Regions from separate parts of the Homo sapiens genome. Here region 2 is linked to region 1. The links come from fine-mapping of genetic effects on gene expression. A gene starts in region 1. The other region holds a variant in brackets. All regions are shown on one strand. Distances are between the middles of the regions.

Region 1 (5,000 bases):
TGGAGCGCAGGGTTTCCTGTTGCATGAAACGGGGGTCTGAGGAAGTCTAACTGACGACTGGGCATTTGAAAACCCGAAGGAGTGAGGGGGCAAGCCCCAAAGAGGTCTTGAGAAAAAGGGCTTCAGGCAATTATGCTGCCAGAGCAAGCCAGGCGGGGAGCTTGGAAAGCTCCAGAAGCAGCAAGGAAGCCAGGTAGCGACAGCGGAGTAGGGGAGGGGGAGGAGATGAGGTCAGGGAACCCAGGCAGGTGCAGGAAGGGGTTTGCGGGTGGAGCTTGCGTGCTTGGAAAGCTCCAGAAGCAGCAAGGAAGCCAGGTAGCCGCAGCGGAGTAGGGGATGGGGAGGAGATGAGGTCAGGGAACCCAGGCAGGTGCAGGAGGGGGTTTGCGGGTGGAGCTTGCGTGCTTGGAAAGTTCCAGAAGCAGCAAGGAAGCCAGGTAGCCGCAGCGGAGTAGGGGAGGGGGAGGAGATGAGGTCAGGGAACCCAGGAAGGTGCAGGAGGGGGTTTGCGGGTGGAGCTTGCGTGCTTGGAAAGTTCCAGAAGCAGCAAGGAAGCCAGGTAGCCGCAGCGGAGTAGGGGACGGGGAGGAGATGAGGTCAGGGAACCAAGGCAGGTGCAGGAGGGGGTTTGCGGGTGGAGCTTGCGTGCTTGGAAAGTTCCAGAAGCAGCAAGGAAGCCAGGTAGCCGCAGCGGAGTAGGGGAGGGGGAGGAGATGAGGTCAGGGAACCCAGGCAGTTGCAGGAGGGGGTTTGCGCCGGGTGGAGCTTGCGTGAGGAGCGCTTTTGGATCGTCCTCCGTGAGTTGGGCGCCATGGCTGCCTTCTGGGCAGAGTGCAGGGCCTGCCTTAAATGTTGTGGGGGTTCTGTTCTCAACAAAGGCGTAAGTTGGGAGCGACTGAGCCACTCCAGGAGGAGGTGTGGGCCCACGGCGTGTTGGAGGTGGAGCCACAGGACCTGTCCATAGGTTGGATGCTGTGTGGGTGACAGAGAGAAACCGGGGCTCACGGCCTGGGCAGCGGGACGGGCGGAGTCGTCCTCACCTGTGCTGGGGACCCTGTGGGAGCAGCAGGCTTCCGAGCACGTGCTGGACCCCGGCGTCTCCGGCTGCACCGAGTGGTCAGGACATTGAGGCCGGGTCAGGGAGCGTGAGATACCGGGACGAGCGGGCCCAGGGCTGAGCCCAGCGGCGTCCGGGTGGGCGGTGGCGTTGAGATGGGAATTGGGAATTGCACCGGTGGTCTCAGGAGGATGGAAAACCCAAGCAGCAGCTGCACCAGGACCGAGGCAAAGGGACCGCAGTTTAACAGAAAACCCAAAACGAGAGCGAGAAAACGGCCAAACACCCGTGCGAGTGAGACGTCCATGAGCCTTCCCGGCAAAACGCCCAATAAGGGAGAAGGGGCAGGCGCGGCGGGGGCCGGGGTTCCCTGAAGTCCCCTTCGTTTCCAGAATCCCTAAAGATCATTCCGCCCCCCAGGGAGGAAACCCAAGCTCCGCCGAGCGCGGCGGGTCTGTGCCTTCGCTTCGCTTCCAGCCTCTCGCTTCCTTCTGACCCGACCCCGAGTTCTTTCTCCGGACGGTGTCGAGAACCCGGGCGCCGGCTGGGGCTGGAGTCTCGCTGGCCTCGGAGCGCCCCCGAGCCCTCGGGCGACAGCGAGGCGAGGACCCAGGTGGAGGCGGCCGGGGGCGCGGGCGGAGGGAGGAGGCGCGGGAGGGAACCCCCGGCCCGCGGGCCCCACCCACAGCCGCCCCGGGACGCAGCTCGGGGTCCAGGCTCGAGCTTTGCTCACTCAGGGCGCTTCGTGCAGGGAACGCCAGGCCCCCGGACGCGACCCACGCGGCCGCTGCCAGCGGGGACCGAGGGGAGCCGGGGCCGCGGCCGCGAGTCCACGTCCCGCCCCCGGGCCCGGCCCAGCGACCGCCCCCGCCGCCCAGGGACCGCCCCCGCCTCCCAGCGACCGCCCGGGCCCTCGGGGCGGGGACCGCGGACCTTCCTGGTGGCGCGGCAGCCGGGCGGCTCCTCCTTCCTCCCGGCCCTGGCGTGGAGCAGAGGGACACAGGTTCCCACGCTGGCGCCCGGCGACCGGGTGGGGCTGCGGTGAGTCCCAGAGGCCCCCGCCCCGCAGCTCCCGGCCGCCCCGGCCCGTCCCCCCAGCCCCCGGTCGCCCCATCCTCCCTCCCCCACCCGCGCCTGCCCCAGCCGCCTACACCCCCGAGACCCCCACCCGCCCGGCGCCCCGGCAGCCCCGGACTCCCTCCCCCATCCCGCCCAGCGCTCCCCCCACCCTCCACACACGCCCGCCCCCACGTGCCACCAACAGACGCAGGTCCCGACCACAGAGGGTGGGGGCAAGACCGGGGTTGTGGGGGGTGCGTTTGGAAAGCAGGGTTAGGACTGGAATTCTAAGGTAGCAGGAGGGAGAGACACACTCAGGGGCTCAGCTGGGTTCCTGGAGATCAACCTTTGGGGTCTGAGCCCCTCTGAGAGTCGAGCTCCTTTCCTGCGAGGCCCCGTCTAGGAGGGGCCTCAGGAAAATCGGGGCTGCCCAGCTGGTTCCGCAACTCCCCCCAGTTCTGAGGGAGGCTTCAGGGGATTACAGACGGTCTCAAGAGGGAGGCCCAGCCAGTCCCGCGGCCCCTGACACCCCATCAGGCCGCTCAGGCCCAGCAGCTCCATGGAGGACGCCGGCGAGGACCCCACCACGTTTGCTGCCCACTCTCTGCCCAGTGACCCCCGTCTCTTGGCCACTGTGACCAACGCATACCTGGGCACACGAGTGTTTCACGACACGCTGCACGTGAGCGGCGTGTACAATGGGGCTGGCGGGGACACGCACCGGGCCATGCTGCCCAGCCCCCTCAACGTCCGGCTGGAGGCCCCTGCAGGGATGGGGGAGCAGCTGACCGAGACCTTCGCCCTGGACACCAACACAGGTAGCGCCACCTGGCCTGCCTCACCCCTGCCCCAGGCATTGTTCCAGGTCGGTGGGGCAACCACAGCATCGAATCCCACCAGCACCTCCTGAGTTTACACAGGAAGTCTCACTAAGACAGGAGGCCCCAGAGGCCCGCAGGGTCCCCCCTTCCCTCCACCTGGAGGCCTCCTGTGCAGCTGTAGCGGGAACGAGCAGCCGAGGGCCCAGAGGGATCCGCCTCATTGTGGGGAGAGGCAGCGGTCGGGTGGTCCACTCCTGCCCCAGAGAGGCCATAGCTTGGCAACCCACCTGCCTTCGCTTCTGCCTCCCCAGGCTCCTTTCTTCACACCCTGGAGGGCCCCCGCTTCCGGGCCTCCCAGTGCATCTATGCGCATCGCACGCTGCCCCACGTGCTGGCTTTCCGAGTGTCCATCGCCCGCCTGGCCCCGGGGAGCGGGCCCATCACGCTGCTCCTGCGGTCAGCCTTCTCCCCAGAAAGCCCAGACCTGGACCTGCATCAGGGTCCTGACTTCCAGGGAGCCCGGTAAGGAGGGGGCTGGATTTGCAGCCAGGGAGTCCAGGGAGGGAGCTCATCCCTGAGGCATGGCCACGCTCTCACAGGTACCTGTATGGCCACACCCTCACCCCTGAGCAGCCCGGGGGGCCACAGCAAGAGGTACACATGCTGTGGACACCAGCACCCCCAGACCTGACCCTTGGGGAAGGTGAGGAGGCTAGGACGTGGGACTTCCTGACAGCAGTGGGCGGCAGCCAGGCTGAGGCTCAGGCCTGCCTCACTGAGGCCCTGCAGCTGCAGGCCAGGGGAGCTCTGTATACGGCTCACGCACAGGCCTGGGCCCAGCTCTGGGTAGAATGTGGCTTGGACGTGGTGGGGCCCCTGCAGCTGCGCCAGGCCCTGCGTGGCTCCCTCTACTACCTGCTCAGTGCCCTGCCCCAGCCCAAGGCCCCAGGATACATCTGCCATGGCCTCAGTCCTGGGGGCCTCTCCAATGGGAGCCGTGAGGAATGCTACTGGGGCCACGTCTTCTGGGACCAGGTGAGCACTGTACACCCAGCACCAGCCACACAGCAGGCGACACATGGAGGTCCACGGTCTCTGCCCTCCCTGGGACCAGGGCTATGGTTGGGGAAGCACAGGGACTGTGGCAAAAGGGAAGAGGCCTGGAAGGTGTGCAGGAGTTTGGTAGAGGAGTGATCTAGGTGAGGGGAATGGAAGGTGCAGAGACCAGAGCTGAGAGGGCCTGAGGCACTTTCCAGAGCGTGGGGAGGGGCCTCCACCAAGGCGAGAAGGGCTGCAGGTCCAGATCACCAGCGTTTGTAGACAGTAGTGTGGCGCTTGGAGTTTACCTGAGGGCCAGTGGAGCTCCAGGGACCTATCAGGACGGGGACCTGTGGGGACTGGGAAGGCCTGTGGGGCTGCGTGGAGCCCGGTACTGGAGGCCGACGGGGGTGACGGGGACGCTGAGGGCACAGAGCGGAGGGGCATGATGGCTGCTGGGCGTGGAGGTGTCGAGAGTGACTGTGCTGGGGCTGCTCCATCGTTGTCTGAGCCTCCCGGTGCTGCCGCTGTGGCCGTTTCTTTGATGAGGCTCTCAGAGGCCGAGTCATTCACTGCCAGCCTGAAGCTGCCCATGCGCATATTCGGGCTGGAGCCTCTGAGGCCACACAAACGCCGGCTGGGGAGGCGAAGTGTGGGGCTGAGCACCAGAACTCCAGGAGCGTCTGGGCTGGAGACAGAACTGGGTGGGCAGGTGGGGAGGGCCTGCAGATCTGAGTGGGCAGCCGAGGAGGAACCCAGAAGACGCCAGCGATGGAGCTCTGCCGGGGCGGAATGTGGCCAGGAGGGGCGGGAGCAGTGACGGCCTGTCCGGCGCTAGAACGAGGGACCGTGCTCTCAGGACCTCTGGATGTTCCCGAGTATCCTGATGTTCCACCCAGAAGCCGCCAGGGCCATCCTGGAGTACCGCATCCGCACGCTGGACGGGGCCCTGGAGAACGCCCAGAACCTGGGCTACCAGGTGAGGGGACCTGGGGCACTGGCCCGTAGGGCCCTGCAGGGCCTGC
Region 2 (5,504 bases), 65 kb after region 1:
TACCCAGCGTCGTCCAGTCAGGGCCGAGTCTATTTCCTTTGGGTCGGGGGCTCCTCCTCAGTATTGTCCCTTCAGGGTTTGCCAGAAAGATGTTACCGGACCCCACTACTTACCCAAAGTTAGCCTTTAGGTCGGGGGTTTCCGCACTGGAGCCCCTCCTGAGGTCACCAGAGATATGTCACCTACCCAACGCTAGGTTTTGAGTCTGCAGTTTTTCTTCTGTGGTCGCCAGAAAGATGTTACCGGAAAGGGGTCCCGATCCAGACCCCGAGAGAGGGTTCCTGGATCTCATGCAAGAAAGAAATCAGGGGGAGTCCATAAAGTGAAAGCAAGTTGGCCGGGCGCAGTGGCTCACGCCTGTAATCCCACCACTTTGGGAGGCCAAGGCGGGCGGATCACGAGGTCAGGAGATCGAGACCATCCTGGCTAACACGGTGAAACCCCGTCTCTACTAAAAATACAAAAAAAAAAAAATTAGCTGGGCGTGGTGGCGGGCGCCTGTAGTCCCAGCTACGCGGGAGGCTGAGGCAGGAGAATGGCATGAACCCCGGGGGGCGGAGCCTGCAGTGAGCCGAGATCGCGACACTGCACTCCAGCCTGGGCGACAGCGAGACTCCGTCTCAAAAAAAAAAAAAAGAAAGCAAGTTAGTTTATTAGGAAAGTAAAGGAATCAAGAATGGCTACTCCATAGACAGAGCGGCCCCGAGAGCTGCGGGCTGCCCATTTTTACGGTTATTTCTTGATGATATGCTAAACGAGGGGTGGATAATTCATGCCTCCCCTTTTAGACCATGTAGAGAAACTTCCTGACCTTGCCATGGATCTGTAAACTGTCAGGACCTTGGTGGGAGTGTAGCGCTGAGGACGACCAGAGGTCACTCTCGACACCATCTTGGTTTTGGAGGGCTTTGTCCGGCTTCTTTACTCCAAACTGTTTTATCAGCAAGGTCTTTATGACCTGTAGCTATTGCCGACCTCCTATGTCATCCTGTGACTTAGAATGCCTTAACCGTCCGGGGATGCAGCCCAGCAAGTCTCAGCCTCATCTTACCCAGCTCCTAATCAAGATGGAGTTGCTCTGGTTCACATGCCTCTGACAGAACAGTCTCTGCTGTTTCGCCCTCTGGACCAGCCAGAACATTTCTCTCCCTGTCTCTCCACTCTCCCTGGGATGCCACTAGGTCTCTGCTCCTGAGAGCCAGGGTGTTCACCTTGGAGGCACACGGAGTCCATTTTCCACCTTGTGTGACTGTGTGCCTGGTGCTAGTGAGGCAGGAAAACAAGGCCTGGAGACAGGGAACATAAGACCGATTCACACCTCAGCTATGACAGGAAATATCCTCTCCATAGGGCCTGCACCCAGTAAATGACTTTGTAACTTTACTTCATCCTCTCCATTTACAGAGGGCGTACACCAAGTAACCAACGGAATCCTCTAGAAGGTATTTAAACTCCCCAAAATTCTGTAATGGGGCCCTTGAGCCCCATGCTCCGGCCGCTCCCACGCTGTGGCGTGTACTTTCCTTTTCAGTAAATCTCTTCATTCCTTCCTTCCTTTGTGGGTTTTGTCCAGTTCTTTGTTCAAGAAACCAAGAACCTGGGCAACCTCAACAGGTAATGATATGAAATTCATATTCACCCAGTGACTCTGAGCCCTTTTTAAAGAAGAGAGACTTTGGGTGTGTTACTTTACCTCTAGAGGGGCTGAAAGGTCCCCCCAGCTGGGAAACGAAGGCCCAGCCCGAGCTGCTATTGGTGGGCGGCACCCAGGCCATGAGAGCAGAAGACGCTCAGAAAGATCTCTTTCTAAACAAATCAAAGCCCAGTTTTGTTTTTGTTTTTCTGGCTTTTTGTTTTTTTGTTAAAGCAAAGTATCAGACTGCGAATAGACACCAGTTTCATCTCAGACTCACTGCTGGAGAACCAGCAAATCCCTGTGTCTGCCCGGCAGGTTCCTATGGAGAACCTTCGACTGGTTTCCAGGGCAGGAAGCCAGGCCCAACTCTGTGGACTGAGCCAGTGAATCGGCCTCAGGCCAGGCACAGAGCCGGCCCCAGAGGCTGGGGTGAAACACGAGCTGTGAGCTGCAAATCAGAAACAGAGCGACAGGACACTATTTTCATGACGAGGTTCTGGGTTTTTCCCTGATGTTTGTTTCCTCGGTTTTTTTGTTTGTTTTTCCCTTCCCAGTATTTTTGGACTTGAACTTTAGAACTTCAACTTCTCTGAGGTTTAGCTTGGCGGGAGGAGGGGGATTAATTACCGTACCGTAATTTCTCCTGGGATACTGGATTTGGGAAAGGGTATATATCCTAATTTGCCATTCTGAATTGGTTGCATTTGATTAAAAGCATGACTTCTATCATGGAGGGTCCAGCCCTACGGGGCTTGGCGGGTGTTCTCCCCGTGTGTGGAGACGAGAGACCGGAAGAAATAAATACACAAGACAAAGAGATAGAGAGAAAACAGCTGTGCCCGGGGAACCACTACCACCAAGATGCGGAGACCGGTAGTGGCCCCGAATGGCTGGGCACGCTGATATTGATTGCATACAAGACAAGGGGGCAGGGTAAGAACGGTGAGTTGTCCAAGTGATTGATAAGGTCAAGCAAGTCATGTGACCATAGGACAGGGGCCCTTCCCTTACAGGTAGCGGGAGCAGAGAGGGAAGGCAGCATACGTCAGCGTTTTCTTCTATGCACTTTTAAGAAAGATCAAAGACGGCCGGGCGCAGTGGCTCACGCCTGTAATCCCAGCACTTTGGGAAGCCGAGGCAGGCAGATCAGTTGAGGTCACGTGGCCAAGACCAGCCTGGCCAACATGGTGAAACCCTGTCTCTACTAAAAATACAAAAAATTAGCCACGCATGGTGGCAGGCGCCTGTAGTCCCAGCTATTTGGGAGGCTGAGGCAGGAGAATGGTGTGAACCCAGGAGGCGGAGCTTGCAGTGAGCCGAGATCGCACCACTGCACTCCAGCCTGGGCGACAGAGCAAGACTCTGTCTCAAAAAAAAAGAAAAAAAAAAAGAAAGAAAGAAAGATCAAAGACTTTATTTCTTCTACCGCTATCTTCTAAGAACTTCAAAGAGGAACCAGGAGTAAGGGAGGAGCATGAAAGTGGACAAGGAGTGTGATCATTCAAGCACCACAGGGAGGGGGTTAGGCCTCCGGATGACTGCGGGCCAGGCCTGGAGAATATCCAGCCTCCCACAAGAAGCTGGTGGAGCAGAGTGTTCCCTGACTCCTCCAAGGAAAGAAGACTC[C/G]CTTTCACGGTCGGCTAAGTAACGGGTGCCTTCCCAGGCACTGGCGTTACCGCTTAACCAAGGAGCCCTCAAGCGGCCCTTATGTTGGTGTGACAGAGGGCTCACCTCTTGCCTTCTAGGTCACTTCTCACAACGTCCCTTCAGCACCTGACCCTATACCCGCCGGTTATTCCTAGGTTATATTAGTAATGCCACAAAGAGAAATATTAAAAGCTAATGACTAATAATGTTTATACTGATTGATAATGTCCACGATAAAAGCTAATGATTAATAATGTTTATACTAATGATTGATATGTCCATGATCATCTCTAATTTGTATTATAACTATTCTTATTCTCTTTATTATACTGAAAGTTTGTGCCTTGTCTTTTTTTTTTTTTTTTTTTTTTTTTTTTTTTTTGAGACAGAGTCTCGCTCTGTCGCCCAGGCTGGAGTGCAGTGGCGCATCCGGGCTCACTGCAAGCTCCGCCTCCCAGGTTCACCCCATTCTCCTGCCTCAGCTTCCCGAGTAGCTGGGACTACAGGCGCCCGCCATGTGCCTTCAGTCTTTTGCCTCCGCACCTGGGTAATCCTCCGCCCACACTATCACATGCCCTGAATAATGGGGTTAAGAACAATTTGGGGTGGAAAACAGGGTAGGAAGGGAACAGATGGCTCAGAACACAGGAAGTTAATTTAACTGCAGTCCAGGGAGGATGGCATTCTGGAAGCCGAGTCGGCCTGAGGTCTAAGGGGCGGAGGGAACTCCAAGCTTGGCCTGGAGCTCAGGGAAGGGAGCTCGCGTGGACTTCAGGAGCCCGGTGGGTGCTTCCTGTGCACAAACGGGCAGGGTCTGAGCTCCCACCGTCTGGAAATGCTGCCCAGTGGATTTCAGCCTCATTTTACCCAGCTCCCAATCAAGATGGAATTGCTCTGGTTCAAACGCCTAGCTTCGCCAGCTAGGGGGTGAACCGGCCACAGATCCCCGGAGGCCAACAGAAGACAGAGCCCCTGGGTCAGAGGCAAGGACGGTTGACTTCTCAGGCAGGGAGGTGGCCAAGGGAACCGCTTCTGCGGCGGCTTCCCAAGCCCCAGCTCCCGCAGAAGGCCTGGAGGGGCCCGGGGACCCGTGCCACGCAGTGAGTGGCGGCAGGACACGAGCCCGGGGGCGCAGCTTCCTGGACACTCTGCCCCCAGACACTGGCTGCCACGCGGGACGGTGACCAGCGCTGCCCTCGGCGCCCGGGAGGCCTCCCAGGGCTGTGCGCCAGGAAAACATTCCCGAACCGACGGCCGGGAATGGAACGGGGCGGGGCGTTTCCCAGCCCGAGGAAAACAGCCCTGAAAGCGCGGCCAGGAATGGATGGGGGTGGGGCGTTTCCCAGCTGCTCTCCAGGGAGCCGCCTGGAGCGGGGGAAGGGGGGGGCGGCGCGTTCCAACGGTGGGGGGGCTCGTTCCAACGGTGGGGGGGCGGGTCTGCGTTTCGGGCCCCCAGACACGCAGCACGCGGAGGAGCGCCCCGCCCCGTCTAGAGCCCCTTCCTCCACAGCAGGGCCGGGGCGCAGGGGGTCTCCCCGCACCCAGCGCGTCCCGCCCCGTCCCGAACACAAAGGGCTCTGCCCGTCCGCGCTCCCACGAGGCGGCCCCTCCCCGCTTCCGGCCGAGGTGCGGTCGTCACTTCGGGGAAACGGAGAAAGCGCCTGGGGGGCGGGGCACACACACCATGCACATACACACCCCACACACACGTACCATGCACACACATATACACACACCACATATATACATGTCACACACATACCATGCACATACATACACACACCACACACATACACACATCACACACACACCATGGACATACACACACACCACACAAGCACCGTGCACACAAATATACACAAACCACATACACACGTGACACACATACACACATGCAACATGCACACACACCACAAACACATGCACCATGCACACACATACACACCACAAACATACATACACACGCATGCACCATGCACACACATATACACACCACGCACATACATGCATCATGCACGGACACACCCCACACATATACACATGCACCATGCACATACACACCACACACACACGCACCATGCACACACATATACAGCCACCACATACATACATATGTCACACACACATACACAGGCACAGTGCACATACATACACACCACACACATACACACAGCACACACACATACACACATGCACCATGCACATACACACATACACATCA

Evidence for each region. PIP is the estimated chance that this variant, and not a neighbour inherited with it, causes the effect.
Region 2: its variant is the best candidate, but not a certain one, in a credible set for the expression of PGGHG in fibroblasts (GTEx, PIP 0.55).

The regions. Positions count from the first base shown.
Region 1 is chr11:287,142-292,141 of GRCh38, forward strand. PGGHG (protein-glucosylgalactosylhydroxylysine glucosidase) reads left to right here and starts at 1,985. Exons shown (of 14, transcript NM_025092.5): 1 at 1,985-2,098; 2 at 2,663-2,934; 3 at 3,249-3,459; 4 at 3,537-3,972; 5 at 4,835-4,954. The coding sequence starts at 2,676. RefSeq lists enhancers at 632-1,161, 1,162-1,691 and silencers at 1,575-2,104, 2,115-2,174.
Region 2 is chr11:351,494-356,997 of GRCh38, forward strand. No RefSeq gene overlaps it. Among named protein-coding and RNA genes, the nearest start is that of B4GALNT4, 15 kb to the right of the region's middle. RefSeq lists enhancers at 1,547-1,596, 2,826-3,402, 2,908-3,197, 4,384-5,336 and silencers at 1,997-2,163, 4,632-4,951. The variant C/G (reference allele first, on the strand shown) is at 3,263.